3 separate regions of the Homo sapiens genome follow, and all the other regions are linked to region 2. The links come from fine-mapping of genetic effects on gene expression. A gene starts in region 2. Each other region holds a variant in brackets. All regions are shown on one strand. Distances are between the middles of the regions.

Region 1 (10,598 bases), 51 kb before region 2:
CAGATCATTCAGCAAGCTGAAATCAGGTACTTTGTAGTCTTTCGATGCCCCAAAAGATGGAACAATCGTTTTTAAAAGCTGCACATGGACTTAAAACTTTCTAGTTGTATTCCATACCTGGCACAAAATAAGTGTTCCATGAATTTGCATTTTTATTAGTATGCATCTGAGACAAACCTGAGAAGCAGAAAAAGATTTAACATTTTCTGAAGTAGAAAAGGCCACGTCTCTGTCGGGAAACAGCAAACAAAATTAACAGATCTCTTTATTAAAAGATCACAATTATCTCCTCACATGGAATTCTGTCTGATCTCAACATTAGTTATAAATGTTTTCCAGACTTTGAAAATGTCAGAAATATCCCTTTCAGAAAGAATAAATGTAATAGTGTTATGAACGTTTGTTAACTCAGGTAGCAAAGTTATGGATTACATTAGCAAAGTAGCTTCTTAAGCTCTCTTTATTCATCTGCAGTCCTGGAAAAATTAAGTATAATTCCAAGTAGATAAGATTCATAGTAAAAAGAAAGCTTCCTAAATGGCATACTTAAAAGTCAAGTACATGTTAAAGTTGCATGAGGAGAGGCACAGTGTTGACTATTTTTGCCAGTGAGAAAGCAAAACTGTTTAATGCCTGATAGGCCTTCTGCAATTCTGCCTCCATGCTATAAGATGCTGATCGACTCAGCAGCTAGCCTATCCAAATGAGCCTGCAGGAAAAGGAATGAACTATGAAGCCAGCAGTAAGGGGATTCTGAGGAGGTATATGATAGGAGGGATAAAGAATCACTGGCCATAATGTGATGAGGCATATAAAAGGCTGCATGGAAAAACACCAAGCCTAAACCAGTAAATACTAGTGAATATATGGTATGCACTAGTACATACAATAGGAATGTGGTAGGATCTTGCCAATTTGAATCTCGCTATTTAAAACTGTGAGTCACATCAACATCTGAAAATCCCATTGATAAGGTTCATTGGATGACCTCCACATACTTGTTCCTTGGTCTTCTTTCATTGTTACTGAAGACCTTCATGCTATTCTTGGCCTCCACCAAGGGGTGGGTGAACAGTTTCTGGGAGGGCTCTGACTAAGGGTAGAAATAACCCTGGAGAAGCTGGGTGGGGAGACAGGGTGAAATTCCAAACCCTCAGTATTAATAGTCTACTACATCATTAATAATTTTTGTATTAACATCTGCCATTTTAGAAAGAATGTCACATTTCAAATTGTCATTATCACTGGATAAATCATAAAACTATACTATTGCTACAGTTTTTTATTCTGGCACTTGATCTTGATGAAAAAGCAGTGGAAAATGTAATTTATTCAATAGTGTAACATCATTTGCCAGCAACCATATACAAATATCACAATGTGTAAATATAAATTATTTTATATGTTGTTTTACAACTTATGCAAGTCAAATCATCTGGTTATACTTTCATAAGACTGCAACCAGAAAGACAAGAAATGACAACAAGAACATTATTTTTCTTTTTCTTCTGCATTTCAGTCGACAGACTGTGGCAAAGTAAAGAATGCAGATTTTAATATAAGATTGAGACAGACTAGGGCCAACTCTGCAATTTATTAATGTTTTAGCTGTTTATTCTCAGGCAACTTACTTAGCTTTTCTGACCCTCAGTCCTGCTGTTTGTAAAAGGAGGCTAATTATGACTACCTTATAGAGTTGTTGTAAAGATAAATTTGATGCTGTATGCAGAGTGATTGCTACAGTGCTTTCAGTTGAATACATACTCAATAAAATGGCAGTTGTTATTAGTCTAGGGTTCACATTGACCTTCAGGAAATAGCTATATGTATAAGCAACAGAACTCTGTCCCATGTAATTTAGACATATAAAGGGTTTTTTAATCAGTTGTTTCCTTTTATAAATACAAACCCCAAGACTCTTGAATCAAGAAACTCAGATACCATTCAACATTATTGGCATTGGCTGCTGGAGATAAAGCCAAGAAGCAAAGTGTTTGATTACTTGTCTTAAACAAAATTTAAAATTCCTCCATAATGGCCAAATAGGGGAGGATAGAGGTCATTTTGAAATGCACAAATAAATATGCCTAGAGTCAAAGTCAAGGTAGCTTTCAATATAGAACATTCCAAAGCAGGAGCACATCTTGAATGTATAAATTCATGGCCAAGGGATCAATCAAAATGCTTCAGCTTCTTTTACCTAATATGTAGGCAGTGACCCTACAAATGAAGGGAATGAGAATTTTTAGGAAGATAATCCTTTAAAACAAAGACCTGGGGTAAATAAAATAAAAGTATCCTTCTAAGGTGTTAACAAACACATTATTCCTTGGATTACTCAATATACTACAGCAGTGACATGTGGAAGGGTCACTCCTTTAAATACTGGGAACAATGACCAAGAAGGTAAAAGGTCTTGATGTAATCATCCAATTTCCTGATGTCATAAGAATCCAAGCCCTATCTAAAATTCCACTGGACTTATAACTTATTTCCATAAGGTTCTATAACATGGTATATGCCTAAAATTATGACAGCATTTCTTTGCCTAGGAAATCCTCCCTAGATGAGCAATAGTATCCTTTTAAATACAATTATGGAGAGATGACTTCAGTGACTTGGCAAAACTTCAAAAGAATAATACAATTTGAGAATAATGTCATTGTTATTTTCTTCTTAAAAAAATAAAAACCTTCTCTTTGTCTCACAATAGAATAATTCTTCCTGTACCCTCTCCTACTCCCCAATAAATAAATTAGAACTCTACCATCAATCAAAAGAGGTTAAATAGAAGGAAAGATAGATAAGAAATGACTAAGTAGAAGTAGGTGGGTCTGTCAAAGTGAAATAAGGCTGAGTAGAAGAGAATTATGGAAAGACACTATTGGAATAACTCCAATTCTTGAATTTTTGAATTCAATCTCTAGTTACCTTTTAAAATCTTTATATTTTGATACTACTTTCAAGAAACTAAAATGACCAAGTGTTGAACCTGTTTCATATGGTAATACAATTGCCACTCTAGAATTTCAACAGATCTGGTAGGGTATTGCAGATGAACTGGTGATCTACTTAAAATTTACCCATGGGAACCACACAAATTTCAGCATAATTTTCATGCTTCTGATACTGTGATTCCCAAACTGTGTGTGAGGTGTCTTGGTGCACTGCAGCACACTCCCAAGGGTGGCAGGAAATAATTTAAATCTTCAAGAGAAATACAGTGACATTCAGCATGTATCAGGTACCAATGAAGAACTAGTTGGAGGGAGTTCATAGTTTTAAGATTACATTTCGTTCTATTCTTTTAAATGACATTAATCTTTACCAAGCTGGTCAACTTGAAAATCAACACGGAAGAAGAAATCAGGGTAGTGATGACCAATCTGATTTCAGGATTTGAAAATTTCTGAAGTTACTTACTAAAACTGAAACATGTATCTCTACACTTGATACATTTGTATTATTTTTAAGGAGATACTAAGTTGTTAAGACATAAATAGTTGAGTTATTTGGACTTAACCACTTAAAAAAACAGAACTATTAGGTATTTCTTTTGACCCACGGGTGTCATGGAATAAAATCACTGAGAGACTAGGGTCTCATGAACTGAGAAAGTTGGAGAGGTTCTGTTTTAACATATGCAAGAATATATAAATAAGTGTCAACATCAGAAGTAAATGATGCTTTGGACTGTTGATTCTTCACAACTAGAATTAGATAATGCCAGGGAAGATATGGTTCTAGGTGATTATATTAAATATATGATTCAGAGCTTATACTAACCCTCAGGAAGCAAGCCAGATAGTCACTGATTTAAAAAGAGACCTTAAATAGATAAGATGCAGAGAGGTAAAGTACAAAACAGAGAAAGCCTGCTTTGTTTGACTCTCTTTCTCTCTTGTCTTTTTTCCCTGGTTTCTATTTAGTTTCTACCTATTGTACTGTGAGGTTTCCTCCTTAAAATGTTTGTAGATATCGACCCCGTAGACCTGGTCTATTTGTATAAAGCAAAGGTATACTTTTTTCCCCTGTCTTAGAATTACATAAAAAGTAAAATCTTGTATCATTTTTATTTTCAAAAATTATACAGTGCTTTGTCATTCATCAAAGAGTCAGCTACTAGAAACTGTCAAACTGTTTTATTCATATATTTTATTGATCAGTATTTATAGATTGCACTGTTCCATAAATTCTCTCTCATGGCTTATCCTTGTTCTGTATCTTTCTTTTGTAGGTAATTTCCTGGTACAAAAATAGTTGAGTTGCCAATTTAAAATTGTACTTTAACCAAAAGAGTCATATCTACTAAGCGGTTACTGCTGCATTACCATGGTTGTCGATTTGACATAGACGTTGTTTTTCAGATGACAGTTTCCGTCATTGGGCACCACTATGCCTGCCAATTTGCTATCAAGAGCGAGATGAGACGTCTGATCTGTCATCACCAGCAGCAATCTTTTAGCCTCTTTTCGCCATCCGATATGACTCTTAAAAATAAACATGTAATTAGACTTTGTACAATAACACAGATGTGTACTGTGGTTTTTACCTCAAGTAAACATTACGTTTGAGTTGACGAACAGTAAGTCAGGCTAGAACGATGTGCGTGGGTACAAC[G/A]CTGCTGCGTAAATAGCTTTAACTTTTATTTGTACATCCTCTATTTTCCCACAGCCATGTGACCACACTAGTTCCTGGCTAGAGATTTCTAGTGTTCCACTGGAGGAAGAACAATATAGATTAAAAAGTAGGAGAGGCCAGGCACGGTGGCTCATGCCTGTAATCCCAGCACCTTGGGAGGCCGAGGCGGGCGGATCACGAGGTCAGGAAATCGAGACCATCCTGGCTAACACGGTGAAACCCCGTCTCTACTAAAAATACAAAAAACTAGCCGGGTGTGGTGGCGGGCGCCTGTAGTCCCAGCTGCTCGGGAGGCTGAGGCAGGAGAATGGCGTGAACCCGGGAGGCGGAGCTTGCAGTGAGCCGAGATGGCGCCACTGCACTCCAGCCTGGGCGACAGAGCGAGACTCCGTCTCAAAAAAAAAAAAAGTAGGAGAACAAGCTGAAGTGAGGAGGGCAACAGTCTACTTCTAGTTCCTCCTTGGAGTGTGGCGCATGAGAAAAGCAGCCCTTTTGGAAAGAATTTTCGCGTTCATAACCTATTCTTTCCCTTTTGTCTTTTCCTATTTAAATCCCTCCCTGAATTTAGCCCCTCTGTCCCAAACACATACCGAAATGAATCACCTTGGTGAGGAGTAAGAGATAGTAAGATATGTTTTCTTCTACACTACGTTTTCACTCCACAAATCAAAGAGAAAATAAAACGTCTAAATTCTTTGAAAGTTTGGCATCTTAGCAAACACTCGATCATGTGAAACGTCTTACTTCACAGACAGCTGCCTGAAGCATGGCGTCAAAACCTCCTTCTGGTGTATCTATGTTTCCAGAGATCTTCTGTCTATGAACTGCTTTCTCAAACTCAGTGATGTTCTCTGTCAAAGACAGCACATGGATGTATCCATGGGGAGGCATGCAGTCTAAATTGTAGTCACTGTGTGGGAAAAGAAGAAGTGTAAAGTTTATTTTGCTCTTCTTAAGCATTCTGGAATACTTAACAGTAAAATTGTACAGTTGTGTGAAAAGGGAGTACTTCTTTTGTGCCAGGGAAACTTTATACGACGAAAATCTATGCTTATAAAATTAGAGATAAGCTCAATGCTGATGACAATTTCTTTGCAAATAGGAAATAAGACTATAAGCATTTGGTATTCAAAAAAATAAAGATGATTAAACATGTTTTTTAATATAGGACAGTTAAAGGCTTTCAATATTTAATCTGCGCTGTGAATTTTTAAGGTGAATATAAGAATGTGCAGTGATTTCTTATCATTGAACAGCTGAGAAACACTTCTGGAAAATGCTTTTGAGGAATTTAGTTGAAATATGATATTAGTTTTTTTTAATACTGCACTAATTTTTAAAGTGATGCTTGGTGGAATTATTGATGAACAATCAATATTCATTAAAATTATTTTGAGAATCTATGATACCCAGAAAGTAAGAATGATTCCTCCTGTACATTCACCTCAAGAAGGCTTATGAAACTCCATTGATGGATGCATCAATCCTGTTCCGGTACAACAGATGACAGAGCTGTTTCGGTAAATTGGAATGTGTATTGTAAAGTAATCTAAGCAATTTGTAGAAGCAAGAAAGATAAAGTCTTTTGTGAAAAAAGATCCATACAGATTTATTTTTCTGAAAATTCCACAGGCTAATGGCAATATTGTGTGAGACACTTGTATTTTTAAGGCTAATTCTTCTTTCATAGTGGGACATATGTTATTTAGAATCAGAAATCTAAAATGATAAGAAAAAAGGCTCTTTCTAAGCAATCAAATTCTCATCTTTTGACCCACTTTCTTTGTGATAACTGAGATTTCTTTGTAGTCACATCGGAGACAACATCATTATCCCCAGTCACAGTACAGTAATGGAGAGATAGATGACGTGTTGGCACAAACTCTTTAAAATGTGTCAAATCATAATTCAGCAATTTTGGAGCAATCAAAAAATAAAAATACAGAATTTCCAAAGAGGTATTTATATACATGGCAGCCTAACTATTGAAGCTTCATTCAAAGTTACTAACATTAGGTAGGGTTTTTTGTTTGTTTTTTTGTTTTTTTTGGTGATAAAAACTGACTAAATATTTAAAGAAATATAAAATAAAAAGCCCAATCTACAGTTCATCTCAGAAGTTTTCAGATATGAAGAAACCTCCCCACCTCACCAAATATTTTTATTCTTATTTTATAAGATAAAAATATAAAATTTGGTAAGTTCTTTACATTAAAAACAAAGTGAGATTTTATAAGCAAAAAATTAATTTAGCATATCCACATCAAACCCTAGATACCTGCATTGATTATGAATCCTTTCGGGGTGGATGCTAATGTATGGTGAAACTGTTTTATCAACGTATGAGCCAAATCCAAGACGAAAGTCACGGGAGAAAAATGCCATTTTTCTAGATAAATCGTTTCCAACGGAATTTAATTTTTCTATATTATTGTGCATTGATGCTGAGACATCAACAAGATAATAAAGATCCACAGGATATTTCTTCAGAGGATGAACTTTCAGCATAAAATTAGCTTCGGCTCCTAGTTCAATAGAAGAAAAACATCATGTAGTCTTCATTTTAAACTTTTCAGGATAAGCTCTTAATAAATTAGTCACATTCTAGCACCTAGCACAATCATCACAAATTTGCACATAAAATTTGGAATATGCTAGTGTAATTATAATAATTATAGTATAATTATTATTCTAGTATAATTATAAGGCAATTTGAAAACCATACCAATTTATTGGTCTCCAAATCCTACAGTTCATTTCCCACAATTCTATAGGCTGAATAGGGATAATAACAAATGGGCCAGCTCCATATAAATGTAACAGGGTATTGTATCATTATATGAACCTCCATTGCCTTAGTAGCTAGAAAAACACAGTGCAAACCAGCAAGCGGCATTCGATCTCAAGACAGTGAGGGGGATGTACGTGTGGAATGACTTGAGGAAAACTGGGAAGGTATCTTTAAAAAAAGGTGATCTCCTATTGGATAAAGGCATAAATTTATTCCTTTGGGTTAAAGTGTATTTACACAGGAGATGAGAAAACTCTGGTACTGTGTAGTACAGCAAGCTATTCAAAATAATTAGTACCTCATCACTAGTTAGTTGGTAAGATTCTTCCCATCAGTTAGCCAAGTGAAGGAATGAGACAGTGGGCTAAAGAATGGTGCCCTGCAGTGCCACATGGAGGACCTGGGGAAGGTAGGGGTCAGCATTTGTCCAACACACGGTAGGTGTTCAATGAACACATGCTGAGGAGGGGGCCCATGAGCGAGGCACCCACCTTGGGCAAAACAACTGGATGAGGAGAGGGGGCTGCCACAAGGACAAATGTCGGTAGTCCCCGCAGGGAACTACAATTTTATTTAGTTCTCTGTCATATTACTATTTGATACAAGGACTTGGGTTGTCCCCCCTAACCCTCTATAGAGTTGGTACCTCTACTTTTAATTTCAAGTATATGGTGAAAAGGCATCTATTTAAATGTAAGCAATTTGTAATTTGTAAATTTTACTTTTTTAAACTATTAAGTAAATGCTTTGTAAGTCATTATTTTTCCATAAGAATATTCCGAATGGAAAACATTTTTAAAATAAACATTCATTTGTATACATAATTTACCTATTTAAAGAACCTTCTAATTTATCAAATTATATTTTTGGTGTTAGCATAAAATAGCAATATTTTCTTTTCGATTATTTCACAAATCAGATGTTTTTCAGCCAAATTACCTACTGTATTCAAAATAATAAGGTTTTGCTGGTATATAATAATAATTATGGAGAAAGGGACTACTCATTCCTAATTTGCTTTTTCTGTGCAGGCAACCCCTTTAGTGTAATGCTCCTAGGTTTTGGCCCATATTTGAAAGGAGAAATAGGGCACACATGGCCCAGCCCAGTCCATTCTCTCATCCCTTGCCTTCAGAAGCTAGGCTGCCTCCTGAGAGCATATCCTATATTCTGCTCTGCTTTTGGGCTTCTGTTGACAGAAAGAACTGTTCCTGTGGCAGTGTTCTGCAATTTGAGTGGAGAAATTAAATTCAGGGGAATGTTAGACACTGGTACACTGGGCCAGATCGATGAGAAGTAGAAATTCAACACTACTGGGAGAGCGGTTCATGTTCAGGGACTTGAACCTTGATGTGTGGATCAGCGTTTTTTTGGTTTTGTTTTTCACTCAGACAAAAAGTGTCGACTCTCTCTAGGTGAACTGCTGTTGATGAAAAGTGTTGCTATCTTTGTAGATTTAAAAAAGATTGTTTTTGTAAACCGGCCACATGGTATCATGGTATTTTTATCTTGGTGAATCGTTGCAGTTTATGGTGGCTCTGTCTAAAGATAAATGGCTGTTTTCAGAGGTACTGCTAGATGTAATAGATGGTCAGCATATTGTGCCAGGGACCCAGCAAAGGTATAGGTTGGTGACCTCAGCAAACAACCAGGGCCTGTACAGCATCAGCAAAAGCCCAGTCCTTGGAGGTAAGCTATTCAGGGCCCTCCAACCAAATGCTAGCCACACAAGGGCCCTCAGCAGAAACCAGCTGCTCATAGCCTAGCAAGCAAATTCCGGTCTCGCTGGCCTCAGCAAAGAAGAGAGGCTGTGAGAAAGCACTGCCAAATGGTTGGGGTGTGAGAGTGTGGGCTGCTGTGGCTCGATTTTGGATTCTATAAATTCTGGCCTTAGCACGTATACCGGAGTCAGCTGAGGCCTTGGTAGAGAAGTTTCTAATAAAGAGGAAAAGAGTATTTCCATACACAGGCCTTTTAGTAATCGCTAGCAAGAATAATAATTGATATTTTTACACTGCAAGACCCTTGAGCTTGCTGTGAGGGTCTAGCTTTAAGTAGTCAATTCAAGGTAAATAGACCTAGCTAGGCTGACCCCAAATCGTGCTCTGCTTGATAAGGAGGAAACCAAAGGGGTCAAGCTTGGATTACCATGTCATGCCCATTAGTTTGAGATAGTCCTCATAATATGCTCTCAAGTTGGCTTTGGATCATATAATTATAAATAAAGGAGAAGACTCTTGGGGGCAGGTGTCCTAGGCATCAGTATTCCACAGTAAGAGGACATAGAAATACCTTTTTGCAGCACTGTGGATATTGTGTCCCTAGTTAACACCCCCACTTAACCTTTGTACGTGATCTCATCATAGAGCCACTTATAAACTATTTTGGACAAGATGCCTGGGCATAATTTTGGAGGAGAAATGGAATAGGGTACAAAACATGGGCTTAGAGTGACCCTGGAAATGATTTAATTAATGAAGTACTATGACCCATTTCAGGGTTTCCAGGAAAATCTCCACTTCCCATCAGTGGTTTCAGAGTTAGTACCAAAGGAACTCTAGTTGGCATGGGGACGTGGCTACATGAAAAGGACAGCAGAAATGTCCTGATAGACCATGGATCCCTGCCCTGACAGGGACAGCACCCTCAGTTTCATCACGTGCTTAATGGCAATATCCATTGGTTTTAAACAGAGCCTGGAAATGTTAGGGAGGGGAAGGAAGGGAAGGGGAATGATTGCTCCTCACTTTTCCTCCTTCCTCCCAAGTAGGACAAGCCCCATGACAATAACCCCCTCCCACATTCACTCCTCCTCAAGCATAATATATGATTTTCAAAGCCATTTTACCTAAAGAATTTTATTAATTTTGCACAAGCCATGTTGAATATATTTCTATTAATACTTTACCACTATCTGGGCTATTCCAACTATCAGGTATTATAAACAGTTATATGTAACTGAATTTGTTATATAAAGATTAAACTTAACCTGGCATGTGCTCTCCAGATATTTTTAGTTGCAAGGCACCATGGGTTAATATTTGTATTGAATATTAATAGATGATATGTCAGTGTTCCCTTTTTAATTTCACATTAAATTAATTATAGCTGTTCTTGTCATTTTAGGGGGTTTGGGTGTTGAAGATAAAGGGTAATGATTACTTTA
Region 2 (10,598 bases):
CTTATAGCAAAAGGAGAGAAAAAATAGGAGATAAAAAGGTTTTGCCACATATATGGATATTGCTTTAAATGATACAGTAGATAGGAGAAAAACTAATCATGCAAGGGCAGGCAGATCCTTGAAACTGAAACTTTACAAGGTATACCTGCTGTGATTCCATTGGAATAAAACAATTAACATTTGTCACGGGAAGCAGATTTACTCATGTTGTTTTTCTCTGTTCATATACATGCGTATCAAAAAGCTATTACATATCCATACTTTCAAAATAAAAATATTTTTAATGGAACTATAATAGAACTATTGAAAAGTAAATGGTTGAAACTGTGTCTTTCCCATTCCTCGTGTCCTTCTCTTTTGCAATTGCTTCCCTTAAAAATTGTGAACATTCTTGTTGCCCTAAGTTTCAGTTTTTAAAAAAATTCATGCTTTAAGATTAGTTACAGTGTGTTCCTCCTCCAGTAGTATTTTTATTTACTGAAATATTTTAAAATAAAATGATATGAAAAATTTCTTTCAAAATATTTAGTTGGGAGAAGGGGGTGAATTGGGTACCAGCAGGAGCACAGATGAAAGAAGTTGGCTTTGAGTTGATGGTTAATGAAGCTGGGTGATGAGTATATAGTGGTCCCTTATACCATTCTCTCTAATTCTGTATGCATTTGAAAATTTCCATTATACCATGTTAAAAACTTTAAAAAATCATAGGGTTAATACCATGGTTAACCAAAAAGAATCCATTAAGTAGTGAGATTTCAGATAATTTGGTAACAAGAGAAGAAGTTATTTTGGGGCACAGGAATTTTCCAAAGCATATCAGCTACTTTGCTGTCAGTTTAGAGGGCAAACATGTATGATTTTTAATTGATCAGAAAGTGTCTCCATTGCTTCAAGATAGAATTAATTTGGGAGCTTATTATGCAAATAATTTAGAAGGCTGAATTTTTTGTTAATGATACCTTGGTTCTTTTAAATATCCGATCACTTTAGGTAAGCATAAATAATTCTGGGAACACTTATGCTATGCAACGCTTTGAGGGGAAGTAATGATATGGTCACAAAATAATGTTAATCTAGTTGATTGTTGTTGAAAATAATAAATAATTGATACTTGAATAAACAGAAGGTGAAATTTCATTGCAATACACAGAAGGTGAAATTTGATTGCAATAATAGTTACCGCTTTTTTAAAAGAAACTGTGATATCTGAAATTTGTTACACTTATATTGCTATATAAAAATTTAGGTAATGAAAGTTCTTAATCTTTTAAAATAAGTAAATGTGGAAACAATGTTGCTACATTAACTCTTCAAATATTAACCACTAGATATACTTTATGTTTTTCTGGTTATTTATTGACCATTTTACAGTGCTATTATTTCTCTAGCTGTGGGTAATCTTCACCAGAGACAGTTAAAAAACAAACTGCTATAATTTTTGCTACATCAGAAATCTTTGGATTTGATTAATAACATCCCCCACTGCTCACTATATATTTGTTATTAAAAGTCCACTATATGTTCGAGACCTATAAATTCTGCTTTAAAAATTAAACCCAAAGTTATGCTGGTCTTATGCAGCTTCTGGTCTCTTTTGTATGGCTTTATTGCCCTCAACATTCTCCTGGTGTAAACTACTGAGCAAGGAAACAAGATTTCCATTGTAACTGATACCTAAATTTCTATTCTGCTTTAAGCATCTAATTTGCACTGTAAAGACATATAATTTGAGACTTGTAGCTATATCACAAAAGTACAGCAGTTTATGCTGATCTCTAATTTTCTGAGTTATACTGGCTATAATTTACATTTTTTGCATGTTTTTAACTGCCATGCAAATCAGTATACATCAGAAACCTTTGTATATTGACAGAGACTGGGAAAAGGATGCCTTGTTCTGATTTCAGATAAGCATTCCCTTTTCAGGTCTGCAGGTGCAAGTAGGCCCATTCATAATATTTCCTTCAAATCAGTTTTAGACACTGGGTAGAAATGCAATGCTTTTTCACAAGAGCCTGACTAATGTTTATAAGCACAGTTAATGGTTTTTAAAAATGTACTTTAAATAGTAAATTTTAGAGGCAAGTAGGACTTTTTCCTTTGCCTGTACGTTGGGAACAAAATATACTGTGTTAACACAAATTTTGGTCATTTTACTAGTGTGTATGTGTGTTTACTAAATCTAGAAAAGCACTTTATTACTTATTGAAACAGGATGAAATTATGCTTAGCGGAAAATTTGCTGCAACAAATGCATGTTTCTTCCATTTAAGAGATAACTGATAATGAATGTTACTTTTTCCTTTGCCTTTTCACTATTTTGAAATCAACAAACAAGCCAAAAAATAACCACAAGATAAAGAGATTTACTCTAATTTCTCCATTTCAGATAACTGAGCAAATCTCCCTGAAACAAATATTAGAAAACTGTATATGCAACAATTTCCTAAAGATAGCTGGATGTTTCCATATATCTCTATATCTATATATATAAAACCTACTTATAAGGTTATGATTTGACTGTTTTAATTAGCTTCAGGCAAAACCTTGACACTTTAAAGTATAGGAGTAAATTTTAACCTACAAAACAATTACAACTATTAATTAAACTCTCCTTGAGCCCAAGAGGTCAGAGAAAGGCTCTAATATAATTTAAGGACTTGGTGACCAAACAGAGAAAAAGTGAAATTAAAAAAAAAAAAAAAGAAAGTATGACAAGAGTCACTGCATTAGCAAAAATAAATGTTGGGCCTATATTGAAAACCATTAAGAACTCATCCTAAACTCATGATTCGTCCTATTACTTAGTTGTGTAATTTTCCAACAATCCAATCTGGTATACCACCTTACATTTGATTTTGTTTCATAAATCAAAAGTCCTAAAACACCTTCTCATATGCTATTTGACTTGAACTTTCCTTTGTGATTTAGAGAAGGCAGGTATTATTAATAAACCTCGTTTTACAGATGAGGACAATGCATTTCGTAAAGAGTTAACCTCTCCACATTAAGGTAGCTCTTACACAAATGGTTTGCCTGGACAGAAAGCTGTTAATCCTGGTTCAGAGTTCTTTCTGCTTCTCTGTCTCAGAGATTGATCTCAGTGAGGGATCAATTAGATAGTATTTTTTTTTTTTAAGCCGAAAGGATGATGACTTAAAGCATTAATATCCCTCCAGTGTGGGTAATTCATTCAGATTGAGCACTAATGATAGCAGAAACTTGTATGCTGTCTTTTTCTGGACTCAAAAATTGAAGACTACTCCCATTATAACCAACTTATCTACAGCCTCGAGTTAAAGGCAAGTTAGTCCTTAGTGGACCCAAATGTTAGAAAGATAGGGAGAACATTGTGTACAGACGATGCCCTTAAGAATGGACCAGGGCCCCTAAATGACTTCTGTAAACAGGACACCCTCTTTTCCAAAATTCCTTTCTATTAGGGCTTCCTCAACACCTAGGAGTAACACAGAGTGTCTCCTCTGATAATTAGTCCTTGCTGTCGCTCCAGGGCAGAAATGCTTGACACCTGGCCTCTAGGCCATCTGTGCTGGAGGACGCTGCCCCGCACCCGCCCCCTTGAAGTTCTCTGATGACCGCAACTTACCTGGCCGGGATGCTCTGGCCGGGCAGCTCTTCGTGCCAGCCCAAGACCTTTGGGGAAGAGAAGAAAACAAAACAAAACAAAACAACTTACCACCTTGGCCCAGTCCAAGAACAAGTGAAAACACCCAGGCTGCCCAGAGGAACGAGGCGGGACCTCGCCGGTCGTTTTGCAGGCAGACAAATGCAGCGGTAAAAAAAGCCAGGGCCGAGCCGCACATAATGCAAAACAGCCCGCCCCGCGCCCGCCGCCTGACTGCCTTCCGGACGCGGGCTCGCGCCTCCCGGGCGCACCTCGGGGCCCGCGGGCCGAGTGTCGCTAGGACGTTTTCCGCAGGCCTAGCAGGCGGACCCCGCGGCTCGGAGCAAGCGGTGCAGGTAAGCGGGCCCGGGCACCGCTCGGCATCTCAGGGCCCCTGCGGCCCTCCCGGCTCGGCACGGCGGGTCCCGCGGTCTCCGCGAGAAGCACCTCCTTCGACGGCCAAGGGCCCCGGCGGCGACTGGAGAGAGGGCTCTGCAAGGGCTCCGCAGCCTGCTCCGGGACAAAGAAAAGAGCTTTTGTTTCTCTCCAGCCGGTGGGGCTTCTGCTGCATAAATCAGCTTAGCGAAGAGCCAAACACAATCAAACCCAAACAAAGCCCGAAGCTGGGGGGGAAACCACCCTAATGTACATTCACTGGGTGATGCTGGATCTGTGGGAGGGGACGCCGGCGAGGTCGAGGGGAAAAAAGTCTGTGGCGCATCAATCAGCGCAGTTGCTTCCACAGGTGGGCAGGGAGGCCAACACCATTAGTTGCAGCTTTGCAGCCCCGTCTGCGGAGCAGCGGGCAAAGACAAGTCGGCAGCGTCCTGGCTGGCAAGGGAGGAAGCTCGGGATGCCAGCAACAGGGGGAGGCGGCTCTGGGAGCGCCCTAGAAGCACCCGCCGACACCCGCAGGCACAGAGCGAGGCATCGCCGCTCCCTCCCTGGCGGGGAGTGGGGCCTGCGGCTGCGAGCGCAGGAGGGGAGGTTCCGCGAGGTGCCGGAGCCCGGCTTCGCGGGGCGGGGGCTGCGTGCCCTTGTCCTTTTCGCCTCAGTGCGCGGCTCAGGCGTCCCGCAGTCCAGAGCCCGAGTTGCTGGCGCGCTCTGGGGTGCACACGGCTAGGATGCGAGAGAGGCGAGGCCGGCGATGGGCGGGAGAGGGGTGGTCCTGCTCTGGCCCCCCGGGGGGCTCCAGACCTGCGGGTAGCCGGGTGCACTCAGGGCAGAGAGTTGCTAGGAAACCTCCCCACGCTACCGGAGCGCCTCGCCTCGGCTGCCCGCAGGCGCGGCTGCAGCCCGGGCAGGAGCAGCAGTAACAGCTCGGAGCAGCGTGGGCGGGACATTGGTGAGGCATGAAGTCACCGCGGCCCACACTCGCTCTTTGTTTTGCTCACTCCAGCTCTTTCTTTTCCCCCTTGGCTCTGATAGTTGCCATTCCCATCGTTCACAAGAACTCCTGAAGCGTAGCCGCGCAACAGGAATGGCACGCCTCGTTCCCTTCTCCCTCCTCCCCCGAATCCTTGCACCCCAACGCTCGCGGGGGTGGTGGGAGACTCGCTCAGCGCCAGCGGCAGCTGCGAGCAAACCCCAATCTCTCACCCCCGCGCTGCTCGCCGCTTTGTTCGGAGATACTCACTGCCCCGCAGCTGCTGCATACAAAGTGGAGTCAAGGGACCTCCCCTGCCCCCAACGCCCTCTACTCAGCACTTTGCTTGCAGTTAGGAGCTCGTCCTCTACCCCACCACAAGGCTGCCCCGGTGTCCCTAGCCTTTGGAGAGTTGGACCAGTCTGCAGGGGCTGTTCCCGGAGCGACTGGCCGAGATTTCTCGCTGCTCCTTCTCTGCTCAAAACCTTAACCCTGGACTGGACAGCCCTGTTTTTCCCCAGCGTCTGGTGGTGGCTCTGGGCTTTTGCAAGTTACAGTGGGTCTTTTGATCTTAAGCGTCACCTTCCCAGTAAACGGAACAAAAAGTTACAGACAGCAGCAAAGCGGGGAGAGGGGAGCTAAGGAGAGAAAGTGGAAGGCACTTCTGCCTGCTTGCAGCTCAGAAATTTAGGTGCAAGTAGGGTGCGGGTGTTATGCTGGGCAACTGCCCGGAAGCAGCGCGCCTCCTCGGGTCCTGTCATTACCACGCTAAGTCGAGGGAGGGAACTCAGTCCCCCGCATTGGAAACAAGGCAGTGTTTCCAGTTTAACACGGTGATGGTTCTCTTTTCCCTCTAGGGGCAGGAGCGATTCCCATTCGAGGAGTTTGACCTCTCATTTTAATACAACACCCGCCTCTTAGAGGCAGCAGACCAGTCCAGCCAGGTCAAGGTGAAATATGCGGGAGTTTCCCCCCTTCTTATTTAATAGTTTCCGTCTCCTTATTTGTAGTTAAAAAAAAAAAAAAAAAAAAAGTAGGAGGCGCGGTCTCTCTCTTTCTTTCTGTTGACTGAGTGAATGGAAAGTACCTGGTTAATAAACCACAACATCGAAACTCCCCCTTTCAGGTGTGGACCGCACAACGGGGTGCACAGGATTAGTTAAGCAAAGCAGGAACCCAGCTGGAAAATTAAACGAGCCCTGGATCTGCAAAGCAGGTCCCTTCGCGAGACCAAAGCCGTGATCCCAACCTTAGCAACATAATTCTACTGGAGGTGATGTACTCTAAATAAATAGAAATAAATCCAGCTCCGCTTTAATATTTATTTCCTTTCCTTAGTTCCAAGTTTGAACAGTTATAGTTTTGTTTTTTGGTTGTCTTAAAGGAAAGGCCTAAAAATTAGTTAGGATGGGTGTGAGGACTTGAAAATTTGAACACAAAAATATCATATTCAATATCTGATTAGTGACTCTTCCATTGGGCAGCCTGGGTATTTTCCAGGGGTTATGTCACAGACCTACTGAATGCAGCCACCCTTGAGACATGCAGTGCTTCAATCAAAAAAAAAAAAAATTAAATCCCTAATTCCCATAAGGACATGTCAATACACTTTAAAGTGTCTATCATATCACCATTCCATAATATTCTAAAATACAACTCTTTGTTGCTGGGTTGTAAGTGGCAGTTACAGTAATAAATAAAATATAAATGTATGCAAACAAGAAAGGATGTAACTTTATGAAATTGATGAGGTATGCACTAATTTTTGTAACTCTGTTTTTAGGTGTTGATATATATACTAATCCAGAACAACCATGTAGCAAGAGGAATAAAATGAAGTTCAGAAGTCTGTTTCGGGAAATTTTGAAGCCCTTTAGAAAGAAAGATTTCTACATTTTGTTACATGAAATTCATGCAAATATATGTCAGGTGCCAGTGCTATGGAGTTGTTGAAGAATAAGCACAATACCATTTATTACCACTTCTCAGTTGTAAAGAGGCTGTAACTCTGGTTGTCGAAATAAAATAAAATGAAATCTCCTAGATGTGACACTGTGACCCCTGCCAGTTATTTACAAACAAGTTATCTGCACATTTTGGGCTGTAAACATAAAAGTAAACTCTCTGAAAGACTGCAAATCATCTTTAGGGTTTTCTTAAAGTAAATACAACTAGTGGCCCAGGAACCAAAAGTTTGCTTGTTTCCAGTTAATGTCACTGGTCACCATAACTCACCCTTTTTCCTATGAGGAAATGTACAGCATATTTTAAAGAAATGCAGTATTGTTATCTTCGTCATATTACCTGAAGAATTCTAATAAAGGAAAAATGTTTCGGAAGATGGTGACTTGATTAATTTGTTTTTCCATCATGTTCTGCTATATTGCTTTGAAATTTCTGACAGCTAATTTTTCATCATTTGTGGTAATGAGAGGAAATGAAATTCACAGATAGTCTAAAAATAACATTTTAGTTATTCATTCCAGGCTTCCTATCATTAGAGTCTTTGAGCTGAGTTACTAAAAAGTCATAAAATTAAATTACTTAAATTTCTTCCCTACTCCTTTAACCTTGATTTCTCACTAAGTGAGTTTATGGTGAGAATGAATAAGCTATAGATAGGTAGCAGGAGTGAGGGAGACACTCAGACTGTTTTTTAAGAAATGGAATCTTGCTATCTCACTATGTTGCCCAAACTGGCCTTGAACTCCTGGTTCAAGTTTGAACTCAAGCTATCCTCCCACCTCAGCCTTCTGTGTAGCTGGGATTATAGGTGTAAGACACCACATACAGCTGTGGCTATTCACACTTTAACTAGATGTGCCCAAATTATTGATCTCATAGTGGCACCTACAGACACATTTGAATTTTAATGTTACATCTTTTTGAAGTTGGGATCAGAGCCATTCAGTACGTTTTGGGTGGGTATTCACAAGTTATCTATAAGCTTGCCTGAGACATCTCAGAAGATGATTAATGGTCAGACCAGTGAGATATATTATTGTGACTATGACCTCTAGCTTCTTCTAATGATAAAGTACATAAATTGCTTGAAGGTATTTTTCACTGAATTGTTACATAAGACAGTGTTTCTCATACTGTAGACTGAAGACTGCATACAACACAATCCCCCATAGAGTAATTCTGAGTTCTAATTCCTTGTCTCTATTCCAGGAGATTCTGAATTAGTAGATCTTGTATGGTGCTCAGCAATCTGCATTATACCAAGGTCCTCAAATGGTTTTTATATGCTCTGAAGTTTAAGAACTTCCTACTTTAATGGGTTAATACAGAGACTCCTTAAAGGCCTCATGAGTGTTTAATAACAGAGATCAGTGTCAGGTGCAAATTCAAAGAAAAATGAACTGCTGGAGCCAGTGTCTCTTGCCAAGATAGTTTATGGATGACTCAATCTGTGAGATATTAATGTTTTCTGAAACAAGACTTCCATGATTAAGCTTGGGAAATGCTGAATTAAAGTCAAATTAAATCCCTTACTAGAGGAATTTCCGGAAACTCAATAGAGCAGCATGCCATTAGATTCTCCAAAGGAAGAAACCTGTATGAGAGAACATCTCACAGATTAATTTTCCTCGAAGCATGCTACAGAGCTAGCCCCATTTTACAAATGTGGAAACTGAGACAAAGACTGGCAAAGAAACCAACCTCACTTTTTCAAGGGAATTCATGAGCAGGCAGAAATCAGAGCTCTGATTCTCCTCAATTATCTCATATTGTGATGACTTCTAGTTTCAAGTAAAGAGTCAGATTATGGCTGTTCTAAGTAAAAAAGGAAACTATTGGCTGGGTGTGGTGGCTCACACCTGTAATCCCAGCACTTTGGGAGGCCAAGGCAGGAGAATCACCTGAGGTCAGGAGTTCGAGACCAGCCTGGCCAACATGGCAAAACCCGTCTCTACTAAAAATGTAAAATTAGCCTGGCATGGTGGCACACACATGTAGCCCCAGCTATGTGAGAGGCTGAGGCATGAGAATTGCTTAAACCCTGGAGGTGGAGGTTGCGATGAGCTGAAATTACATCACTGTACTCCAGCCTGGGTAACAGAATGACACACAGTCTCAAAAAAAAAAAAAAAAAGGAAATTCTTGAAAGAAAATTGGGAGCCCACAGAATCACAGAATCAGCAGGAAGCTGGGAGACTACGACTAACCAAGGCCAGAAAACACGGAGGCATAAGCAGTAGCAGGAAGTGTCTAACTCTTAAGAACAACTTTGAATCCTCCCTTTGCTTTGGATCACTTGCTCAAGATTCAAAATCCTTGTTGGGAATATCTAGTTTTCAGAATTTTCATCATATGTTAGTACACTGGCTTTCTGGGTGTGGGAAAAGGAGAGAAGGGGCTCTCATCTTCAGCTTTCTTGGTAGAAAATATGGGTACTTTTGAATGAAACATTTTATCCGTGCATAGTCTAATCCTGTGCACAGACCCTGTGCATAGTGTTATCCTTTTATAGCATGCAGTAAAATAATACTTGTTTAGTCTTTAACTCATCGTCAGAAAGATGATGTCCCTGGCTCACCACTTCATCACATACAACTGGAAGTCTGTGTGCTAGAAGTGCTAGGGAATGAACAACATTCCTGGGTGCTGTCTTAACTGTGCACCAACCAGATGGGAAGTGAGGTATAAATACCCCAGCTCCCCTGTTTCTTGTATGAAGTCACTTTAGGCCTTGTGTTCTACACTATTTTTGAGCTAGTTTTTAATTTTCAATCTATCATGGATTGATACTTAAATAACATAAAGTAAAAATGAATTATTGGAAAAATGGGTATCACTAAAATGTCAAATTGCTATAAAAGTTTCTTAGTACTTTTAATTTTTATACATTCTTTGTCCTGGGCCAGTCTCAAACAGTAGAAGGACTGGTACTGCCACACGTTACATTTTGAGTAATATTTAGCACCATTTTCCAAAGTTCCCCTGTAGGAGTAAGCTATACTTGGTCACAGTGATAATTGCATTCAAATAGATCCTTCGTTGGTTGTCTTTCCTTCCTTCATTTCCCTGTGACCCCCAATATTTCCTGGTGTCAGGGTCCTCTTCTGGAGAAAACTACATTAAGACAAGCAATAAATGTGACTGGAAACTAACCGCTGGTGTCCTGCCTGTATGAATTTAAATTCTTTTCTTGTCTGGCTATAAGACAACCACAGTGCAAAAAAGCACATGGGCTTTAGAGTCTTATGAAGTAAATTTGAATCTGCTACCCACTAGCTATAGAATCATAGGTAACTTATTTAATTTTCTGCAGCCTCAACTCATTTATGTAATGACTATATTAAAACAACTATCAAAATTACCAATTAAAATGAAGTATCACTACACTCCTATTAGAACAGCCAAAATCCCAAACACTGGTAATATCAAATGCTGACAAGGACATAGGGCAATCCGAACCATCATCACTGCTGGTGGGAATGCCACTTTGGAAGATGGTTTGGCAGTTTCTCACAAAACTAAATGATCCAGCAATTGTGCTCCTTGGTATTTACCCAAAGGAGTTGAAAGCTATGTCTACCCCAAAGCCTGCACATGAATATTGTACCAATTTTATTCATAATTGCCCAAACTTGGAAGTAA
Region 3 (10,598 bases), 120 kb before region 2:
ACTGGGAAATTTTTATTTTATTACAGCTAGACATGTGAACATCTTGATAATATAATATGTCAACAAAATGATGTTGCAATAATGTGGAAATACCTGTGTGGGGAATAAGAAAGATATGGTCAGTGGTTTGAGTTGGTTCTATTTCCTCTTTATTGTTTTCTCTGATTTTAAGATTTGTGTGTATTTCTTATACAAAGTATAGAAGTTACAGAAAATCATGATGAAGAGAATCAGTTGCTCACAATTCCTTATTCTAAAATAACCATTAACATTTTTTAAATGGACATATTATAAACATTCTCCTATATAATTATTCTTCTACAACCTCATTTTCTTTCATAGTTTTAAAATTATAAACACATGATTATTAGGCTGAACATGTTGGCTCACAACTGTAATCCCAGCACTTTGGGAGGCCAAGGTGGGAGGATCACTTGAGGTCAGGAATTTGAGACCAGCCTGGGCAACATAGTGAGACCCCGTCTCTACGAAAAAAAAAAGAAGTAGCTGGGTGTGCTGGCACCCACCTGTAGTCCCAGCTACTTAGGAGGCTGAGGCAGGAGGATCACTCAAGCCCAGGAGTTCAAGGTTGTAATGAGCTGTGATTGCTCATTACAACCACTGCACTCCAGCCTGAGCAACAGAGTGAGACCCTGTCTCTTATATATATAAATATATGTATATGGATATTTAGGTATATGATTATTATAAAAAATCAAGAAACACACATACATACATGAATTTAAAAATCTCACGTTTCCTACTACTACTTCCCATGCAAATTTCACTCCGCTGTTTCAAACACTATTTGATATGTATTCTTCCACATATTTTCTGTGCAAACACTTAAAACAATGGTTATCCTATTTTACTCTTCTTTTTCTTTTTTCACAGTAATTGCGGTAGACTGTTAAACTGATGATCCCCAAAAAACCATGCCTCCTGGAATATGCACCCTTGTACAGTCTTCTCCCAAATTGTGTCTGGGCTTGGCCATCTGTCTGTCTTGCTTTGGCCAGTGAAACACTAGTAAGCTTGATGCAAGCAGGGACTTGACAGGAATTTGTAAGCTAGGGCTTGTTCTCTTGGTTCATTCCCTCTTGAAACCCACTACCATGCTGTAAGGAAGTGGTTCTAGCCTTCTGAATGAGGGGAATCTGTATGGAAAGGAACCGAAGTTGTTCCAGGTGGCAACCGGCTGAGAGATGTGTTAGTGAGTCTTCCTGGATGTTCCAGCCCCATTTCAGCTGCCAGCTGAATGCAGCACTATGAGTGACCCCAGACAACGGCACAAGGAACAGAAGACCACCTCTAGTCTTTCTATGGCATGTGAAACATAATAAGTAATTGCTTTACACTTGAATGTTTAGCTATATAGCAATCAATAACTAAAACAATATTGTTGGTACATATGTATCCTCCTCATTCTTCTTAATTTCCACTTAGTGGGCAATTACGTGAATATATACAACCTTTTATTTAACTAGTTCCTACCTGATGGACATTTTGCTTGTTTGGACCAACAGCATTGCAATGAACATCAAAATTAACACTAAGACAAATATTTTAATATACAAATATTCATGTATACCTCTGGATATGTTCTTAAAGTAAATTTTTAGGTATCTCTGAGTCAGAGAGTAAGCAATTTTTAGAGCTATTGGCAGATACTGCCAAATTGCCCTCAAGAAGAGGAAAGATATCTTTATTTTTCAGTATGGACACACTGAAGATAAGAAAAGCTACATTTAATTACTGGTAATCAGCTTGGACTCTGGCCTGATTACCTTAGCTAATTACTTGGGTTGAGGAGGTGGAACATAATTGTAGAGAAAAAGGCAAGCAAACTTTAAAAAATGTCTGCTGGAATGATGATTCACTTGGAACCAAACATTGTTAGAGTAGAAATTTATATTTGGTAGTATCTGTTTGAAAAAATGGGAAGAGAGAGGGATTGTGAACTTGTACAACTCCTTTTTTAATGTCTAGTTAAGTTGAAGGTGCATATATCCTTTGATCCAGAAATTTCACTTCTAAATGTAGCTCAGAGAAATTCTTATGTGTAGAAATAGATGAGGACATTTAGAACAGTATTTCTTGTAATGGCAAAGCAATCCTGTTTGTAAATAGGAAAATGGGTATATATTGATACAATAGAATAATGTAGTGGAAATGTTATTATAAATCCTGATATATAAAAAAAAAGAGGTCGGGTGCAGTGGCTCACGCCTGTAATCTCAGCACTTTGGGAGGCCAAGGTGGGTGGATTACCTGAGGTCAGGAGTTCAAGATCAGCCTGGCCAACGTGACGAAACTCCGTCTCTACTAAAAATACGAAAAATTAGCTGGGCATGTTGGCACATGTCTGTAATCCCAGCTATTCAGGAGGCTTAGGCAGGAGGAGAATCACTTGAACGTGGGAGGCAGAGGTTGCAGTGAGCCAAGATCACAACATTGCACTCCAGCCTGGGCAACAGAGCGAGGCTCTGTCTCAAAAAAAAAAAAAGAAAAAAGGAAAAGCAAAAAATAGGTTGTCAGAAATACCATTTGACCCAGCAATCCTATTACTGGGTATATACTCAAAGGATTAGAAATCATTCTACTTTAGAGACACATGCACATGTATGTTTATTGCAGCACTATTCACAATAGCAAAGACTTGGAACCAACTCAAATGCTCATCAATGATAGACTGGATAATGAAAATGTGGCACATATACACCATGGAATACTATGCAGCCATAAAAAAGAATGAGTTCTTGTCCTTTGCAGGGACATGGATGAAGCTGGAAACCATCATTCTCAGCAAACTAACACAGGAACAGAAAACCACACACTGCATGTTCTCACTCATAAGTGGAAGTTGAACAATGAGAACACAGGGACACAGAGGGGAATGTCACACACCGGGGCCTGTCGTGGGGTGGGGACTAGGGGAGGGATAGCATTAGTAGGAATACCTAATGTAGATGACGGGTTGATTAGTGCAGCAAACCACCATGGCACGTGCATACCTATGTAACAAACCTGCACGTTCTGCACATATATCCCAGAACTTAATTAAAAAAAAATAGGTTGCATAAGAATTTATACTATATGAACCCATTTACATTTAGTTTTGGAAACATGAAAAAACTATGGTATATGTTGTTTAAGAATGTATACAGATGGAGTAAAAGTATAAAAATATATGGAAATAGGCATGAAATTTATAGTAATAGTTATTCTGTGAGAGAGTGAGTGGGCTGTGATCAAAGATCAGTTCTCAGAGACTTCCAAAATTTTTGCAAGGTGGTATTTCTTAAGTTGGGAGGTGAGTCCCTGACTATTTGTTGTTTTTTAATACACATTTTATATCTTAAATATTCCATATATACATTTCTGTGGTGTAATATTTCTTGGTGCTGAGAAGGGGAAAATAAAGGTGGTGACTGAGGAATCCCCTGCCATGTGGAAAATCAGTTCTTTGGTATTTGGTTCCTACTGACTGGATGTGGAATCCCCAGTATTTTGGAAATATTTGGAAGATCAAGAAAGTTTTCCAGTGGATAGGGCCTTTTCTCACTTCCTTTAAAGATTTTCCTAATGTCTTTGTATTATGAAAATGCATTTATGCCTCAGTTGGAAAGATAATCCATGGTTTGTGTCTCTTCCAGTTGAAGTGTCAATCCTTCACCTTCTTACGTCAAGAAATGAAGGAAGGCAGTATGGTTGAATGGATAGAACATGAAGCCAGACTATCTTAAAATCAAATCTTTGCTTCTTTTCCAGTAAGCTGTATCAACTTGGACAATGAGTAATTTACTCAATTTTTCTGATTTGTTGTGAAAGTCAAATGAGATACCCTATATAAAGTGCCTGAGACATAAGGGCAAAGTCATATTCTGTTTTGTATCATAATCTATAATTTCTCCATCATTTTAATTATATCTATAATGATAGAACTGAGTGATTATATTCAAAAGCCAGATTGAAAGTCACACATTGAAACTAAACCAAGGATTAGTAGAATATTTGTTTTTTCCTGGCTAAACATTAAAATAGTGTGCTGAAGACATCATGCCACTCTTTGATCTTACTGTTGAGTGAGCTGTTACTTCTCAAGGCTAAAGACTTTTCCCTCATATATAATTGCCCAGTAAAGAGTTCTTCATTTATATTGGAACAAAAATGAGTACATGTCTTGGTATGTGTGCCTGCTATTTGCAAATTAGTGTTTATGATGACAATTTTCTTTTAACTACCAGAATGATAGCATTTCAATCCATCAAAATTTTAGACTTTAAGTGGTCTCCAGAGACCATTTCTAAGCCTATTGCTGCTCCTGTTCCTTGGCCCATCTCCATAGTTTGTCAGGACCTACTCCGGGGAGGGTGATCCCTAGGGCCTGCTTCACAAAGAGACGTGACTGATTCGTTGCCAGGAACATCCTTTTCTTGCCTTCACTCTCCTAACTGCGGGGCCCATAGAGACTGCTTTCTCAACTCATCACACTCGCTGTCAGTCCTCTTCCTCAACTAGTGATGGTCTTAAGACTTTAGGAAAGAGGCCGGGTGCGGTGTCTCACGCCTGTAATCCCAGCACTTTGGGAAGCCAAGGCAGGTGGATCACGAAGTCAGGAGATCGAGACCATCCTGGCTAACCTGGTGAAACTCCGTCTCTACTAAAAATACAAAAAAATTAGCTGGATGTGGTGGTGGGCGCCTGTAGTCCCAGGTACTTGGGAGGCTGAGGCAGGAGAATGGTGTGAACCCGGGAGGCAGAGCTTGCAGTGAGCCGAGATGGCACCACTGCACTCCAGCCTGGGCGACAGAGCAAGACTACGTCTCAAAAAAAAACAAACAAACAAACAAGAAAAACACTTTAGGAAAGAAAGTGTATTCCTCTTTGGAGGAATTTAGACTCTCCTAACCTCACCTGAGTTTCCTCAGCTTCTGCACCACAGTTTGGCCCTTGTGTCTCACCTTTCACTGCTGCTGTTCTGCTTTTATCCTCATTCCAAACTCGTTTGATTTGAATTAATTGCCTGTTAATGGAAGTATTAAATAAATAGAAGTTTAATGAAGCCAAAGAACTTAAAGAAGGTTACACTTCTTTTGTCTTGGCAAAT[T/A]TGAATGGTAACTGGGTTGCATTAATTGGCTTTATACATTTGCTGGGCACTTACTCCAACTGAACTGTTGAGGCACTGAAGCATTAAAGCAAACTGAGATAAGGCAGGGAACAGAAGAGACAGTGTCAATAAACAATACACCAATCAGTTAAATAGAATTCCGTTGATTTAATTTTCTTTCCAAAAATTCTGGAAGCCTAATCCTATTTGGCTTATAAACAAAGGAAATATATGCTAACATCTCATAGCACACACTTTCTTCCATTTCCATGTCCTCTGATTAGAGTATCATCTTGTTGTAGGTTTTTATTCTTCATTGTTGTTCTTTACATTTCATTTGATTAGCCAATGCTATGTCTTCCATTACTGTAAAAATTTCAGAGAAGGGAACTAATTATTTGATGAAATGAAAACAAAATAGAAAGAAAGAATGACATAGGTGGCCCATTCAACAAAGCAATGACTAAAAGTTCCACATACTTAACACATACAAAAATTGGTTCCACATACATGCATTTTTAAAAAAATGAAGATAACTGCTTTATGCACATTAGTGAAAATACTTGTTAAATATATCTTGAGTAAATGCATGTTTTTCACAAAGTAAACTTCAATGAAGTGTTTTCTTGATAACTTGAAGGAATATTTATCAGTTAAAGTTTCTCTTCGGATGTTCCTGTGTGGATGCCCATATACTAAATACACTAAGATGGTTATGGTTTTAGAACTCAGATATACTTTTCATAGATCTTCTGTATTTTCTCAGCTTTCTGCTTGTAAGCCTGACTATATACATGCTGCCCACCTTTAAAATCCTTGTCCAATATTTATAAATGTTTCACAATTTGCAGAGACTAAAATCAGACATATAATATGTCTCATTTTTACATGAGCCTGGTATGTTGAAAGGATTCAATAAATGTTAACTGCCGAGAAAGTTGTTTATAATTATTAATAGATCTAGAGTAAAAGTTATTAGGTTAATCTTGAGTGACCTTGTACAGGAAAATATATACATTTTATCATTTTATGTGTGGGTGTTTTTGGTACCTGTTTTCGTGCTGCTTTTTTTTCCTCTTGCTTACTTATTTAGTTAGAAGATGGGTGAAGGACAGGGGACATATTTCCACAGAGAAGCATAAATTTTCCAGAGTTTGTTTTCCTAAATTATATAGGCCTCTATGACAATACTAGTTAGTAGTCCACCCTTGCAAAACTCATTGCTATAGTGATCCACTATTAATGAGAAAAGTGTCTAGGTCAGATTAAGCAGGCTTGGGATAAATTAGATGTTGTTTCATGTGGTTTAAAGAAAAAGGACAAACTCATTGCCAACTAATGAGAGACTTATAGTTCAGGAATTAGATTTACATAATTTTATGTTTTAGGTTGTTTTTAATTGAAATTCCATTTAATTTAACACTGTATGGGGTAGAAGGTATTTAGCAGAAAATGAGAAACGGTCAAAATATCCAGCAGTAAGGAATGAGTAAATAATTTATGATACATACATATGATGGGATATTATGTAGCCATTAAAATCAGTATTAAATGAATATTTACTAAATGTAAAATGCTCATAATGAAATAAAAAAGAAAGTAGGATAAATATTGTATAAGAACTTGTATATCAATTTAGGAAAATAACAGATATATGCAAAGGAGAACAAAAAAACAAAACAAAATAGTAGACAATACTTGATAGTGGTATGACTGGAAATTTTAGTGGGTTCTTTGTTTTCATTTGCATTTCCAAAATTCTCTAATATATATCTATTATATCTGATACATTTATATCTACTAATATTGTATATGAATCTAATATATATATAATGTATGAGATATATACATCTATTATCATGGGGTTACTTAAAAAAATAGACAGCTATTATTCACATACTACTACTAATACTACTCCTACTATTACCACTTATAAAGAATTATTACTCTTCTTAGTACTTTGCACATGTTAACACACTCAACTCACTCAACAACCTGATGGAGACAGTCTTCCATGGGCCCCCTGCACTCTTACTCATCTTGCTGAGTATGCCACGAATACAAAGCTTTGAGCACTCTTTACCCAGGACACTTTTCAGGCTTATATTTGCAGTGATAATCTTAGGAGATGAGCTAATGTCTCCCTCTGGGACAAAGAGTAGGCTTGCTTACAGGCTGCTATAAAGCAACAATTTCCCCTGGACCTGTATTCCTCTGCTGTAACACAACACACTGGGTGCCAGCATCCATATAAGCAGACCTGTGGTACTACCAGGATTCAGAGAACTGACTCGGCCAAGCTGATACTCTGCCTACTGTGTTTGGTATGAGTAATATTTTGTCTCTGATCCTGGAGTCATATGTCTTTCATCAGTATTAATGAAACCGTGGCAAGTTAATTTGTTAGTTTTCAAGTGGGGTAAAACTTAAGACCCTCACAGTTTTTGACAAAATTCCATTTCATATTCTATGGATAAGGAAAGAGAGACACAGAGATGTTAAGTAACTTACTTGAAGTTACATAGCTAGTGAGTGGTGGCGTCTGTTGTGAACCTGGCAGGCAGGCTCTGGTGTCCAGGCTCTTATTACTCTGAGTACCTTAAGTAGTTCTGCCACTTGTAGCTGCTAAAACTAGGTACCTTGTGAGGTCAAAGGACTACCAGCTGCATCATGTGCTCAACAACTCTGCAAAATAGGGCTGAGGGCTTCTAGGAGTTGCCATATGATGGTGCTTCTGCCATCTGCAAACACATGAGTATGGCAAATTGTCACTGTGAGAGCCTGGGAAAACAAGTCCCTCTATTCCGAGAAGATGAACTAAATGTAAAAAAAAAAAGGGGGTGAAGAAAAGCAGAACTATTCTCTTATCATTAGGCTTTGCATCATGCTATTGCATGCTTGCTATTTTGTAATATCTCCGTTTCCTCCTTAAAGAAAAAGAACACATTGTGTTTGGAAGTCCTGACTTGTCCACAAGCTGTGTTGGGATGGCAATCATCTTGGCTATGGAGGTGGGTCTCCTTATGACTTCAAAGCAGCCACCAGGTTGAGTCTTCAGAGCTTGACTCCAAATGAATCTCTAGTTGGGCCTGGATTCAGGACTGCTATAGTATCCAACTCCTGAGGGTGCCATCCACATGCACACAGCATCAATGTTCTCTCCTAGAGTTGTATGATGCGCTATTTAGACCTTAGATACAGTTCACAGAGAGTGACATCACTGGCAATGGGCTTAAAGCAGTGCAGGTGATATCTAATTTTTAGTTAATGCCATCTTGAGTTTGAAATAAATGGATTTTGTTGGAAAGCACTTCTGAATGAGGTTCTGTGTCAGATTTCTTTCTCCCTGCCCCTGATTTTTGGAAAAAAATCTCAGACAACACAAGCTATCTGTATCAAAATATTACAGGTTTATCCTGATTCAGCAGGTCTGGAGAGGGATCTGAAATGCCACATTATTAACAAATCCATTGCCACTCTTCCATGGAAAGTATATTGAATAACAAGATTAGCATTTCACATACTTCTCTGATGATAAGAATCACCTGGGCCTCAAACTTTTAAAAATACTCTCAGCTCCCACCGGGCACGGTGGCTCGTACCTGTAATCCCAGCACTTTGGGAGGCCGAGGCGGGCGGATCACGAGGTCAGGAGATTGAGACCATCCTGGCTAACACGGTGAAACCACATCTCTACTAAAAATACAAATAATTAGCCGGGTAAGGTGGCGGGCGCCTGCAGTCCAGCTACTCAGGAGGCTGAGGCAGGAGAATGGCGTGAACCCGGGAGGTGGAGCTTGCAGTGAGCGGAGATCGCGCCACTGCACTCCAGCCTAGGTGACAGAGCGAGACTCCATCTCAAAAAAACAAAACAAAACAAAACAAAACTCTCAGCTCACATCCCTAAAGCTCCTAATTATGTGGGCTGGGGATGGCCTGAGCTTTTTAAAGCAAGTAACCCAGGTGATTCTTTTCATCAGGAAATTTTGGATATGCTGTTATAGACCAAATCTAGCTCTGATTTACTATTGGCAGTAGGACTTCAACATTAAACAAACAAAAACCACAAAGAGATGCTTATAACTAGGGATGAAACTCATGTGACTGGGGCTTAAGAAACTGTTAGTTTCATGAAGGCAGGGAAAAAAGTTGTTTTGTTCATTGTGATATCCGAGGGACTTAGTGCAGTGTCTGACAAAGTGAGTACTGATATCATATTTTCCTGTTTCCTTTCTCTAGGATCCCCACAATCTAGCCCTGTATTAGTCAGAACTCGTGTGATTTCAAATGACAAAAACTCGTCTTATGCCAGCTTAAGCCAAACTAGGGAATTTTTTTTTGGAGGGGGAGGGTGGTTAGCAAAACAGAACAGTATAGGGTTGATCTGATTCTAGGCATAGTTGGATTCAGATGTTCAAACAATATTAATCAGTACTGTTTCCTTCTTTTCTTCCTCCTTGCCTCTCCTACCTTTCCCATTTCTTCCCCTTTTCTCTCTCCCTTTCTCTCGATCTCTTTCTTCCTCTCTCTTTGCTTGCTTTCTCTCTGTTTCTTTTCCTTTTCCTTTGCTTTTCTCTCCTTTCTTTCCCTCTTTCTTTCTTTCTTTTCTTCCCTTTTATCTATTTTTTCTTGTTTTTCACCTTTGATTTCCTCTGTATTTTCAGTAGGCTTTCTCTATATAGGAAAAAATGTCCAGGGGCATCTCCAGGTCTACATGGTACTTGAATCTTAAATCTCAAGGGAAAAGAGAGTCTCTTTTCTGACAGTGCCAACAAAATTCTGGAGCAGAACCTACATGACCTCTTCCTATGTGTGTATATGTTTGCAGAAGGGAGTACTTTGATTATTTAAGCCTGGGATTAATTCTATCCAAATCATATGGATTGAGGAAGATTGAATGGAAAGGGAGGGGGACAGGTCATTCAAAGCTGGGGAGGTGGTATTGTGCAGACAAACATATGTCCAACATAGGCTCAAATCTACATTTCCAGCCTCATCGTTTGGCCTATTACTTGATGAAGTGATGACCTGCCCTGAGAGAGTTGCTGATCTGTGACTATTTTACATCTTCCCAATTCTATCCCTGCCCAATGTATTCTTTTGGTTTAAGGCTTGTCCCTCCACCCCTGCCAACCCCTGCCAATTTTTTGTAATCATTCATATTATTGTTTTGTTCAAATGATCTTTCTCTCCAAAGACCTCTTTTTAATAGATTGTGGCAAAAAGCCCGCATAACATAAAAATTTGCCATCTTAAGCATTTTGAAGTGTATATAGTTCAGTAGTGCTAAGTATATTCACACTACTGTGCAACTAATCTCCAAAACATTTTTGTCTTTCAAAATGGAAACTCATTAAACAGATCTCCAATTACCCCTCCCAACATTCCCTGCCAATCATCATTCCACTTTCTATTTTTATGAATTTATCTACTCTAGATATATAAGTGGAATCACACAGGGTTTGGGGTCTTATGATGGTTTATTTCA

Alleles and levels. Positions count from the first base shown, and alleles are read on the strand shown. Sizes are in standard deviations (SD) of each study's normalised expression. Not every link is listed here.
In carriers of allele A in region 1, the expression in pancreas of the gene that starts at base 4,731 in region 2 tends to be higher than with G alone (large effect, 1.2 SD a copy in GTEx).

Evidence for each region. PIP is the estimated chance that this variant, and not a neighbour inherited with it, causes the effect.
Region 1: its variant is fine-mapped to the expression of ITGB8 in pancreas (GTEx, PIP above 0.99).
Region 3: its variant is fine-mapped to the expression of ITGB8 in whole blood (TOPMed, PIP above 0.99).

Annotation. Positions count from the first base shown.
Region 1 is chr7:20,375,619-20,386,216 of GRCh38, reverse strand. It overlaps ITGB8 (integrin subunit beta 8), which reads right to left. Exons shown (of 14, transcript NM_002214.3): 4 at 6,920-7,166; 5 at 5,386-5,551; 6 at 4,332-4,490. LOC124900239 (small nucleolar RNA SNORD56) reads right to left here and starts at 8,886; the gene lies at 8,816-8,886. The variant G/A (reference allele first, on the strand shown) is at 4,621.
Region 2 is chr7:20,325,033-20,335,630 of GRCh38, reverse strand. It overlaps ITGB8 (integrin subunit beta 8), which reads right to left and starts at 4,731. Exons shown (of 14, transcript NM_002214.3): 1 at 3,698-4,731. The coding sequence starts at 3,824. It overlaps ITGB8-AS1 (ITGB8 antisense RNA 1), which reads left to right and starts at 3,869. Exons shown (of 3, transcript NR_110120.1): 1 at 3,869-3,981; 2 at 6,118-6,264; 3 at 6,775-7,330. RefSeq lists silencers at 3,771-4,010, 4,481-4,870 and enhancers at 4,951-5,240, 5,341-5,410, 5,498-6,110.
Region 3 is chr7:20,448,089-20,458,686 of GRCh38, reverse strand. No RefSeq gene overlaps it. Among named protein-coding and RNA genes, the nearest start is that of ITGB8-AS1, 120 kb to the right of the region's middle. The variant T/A (reference allele first, on the strand shown) is at 5,111.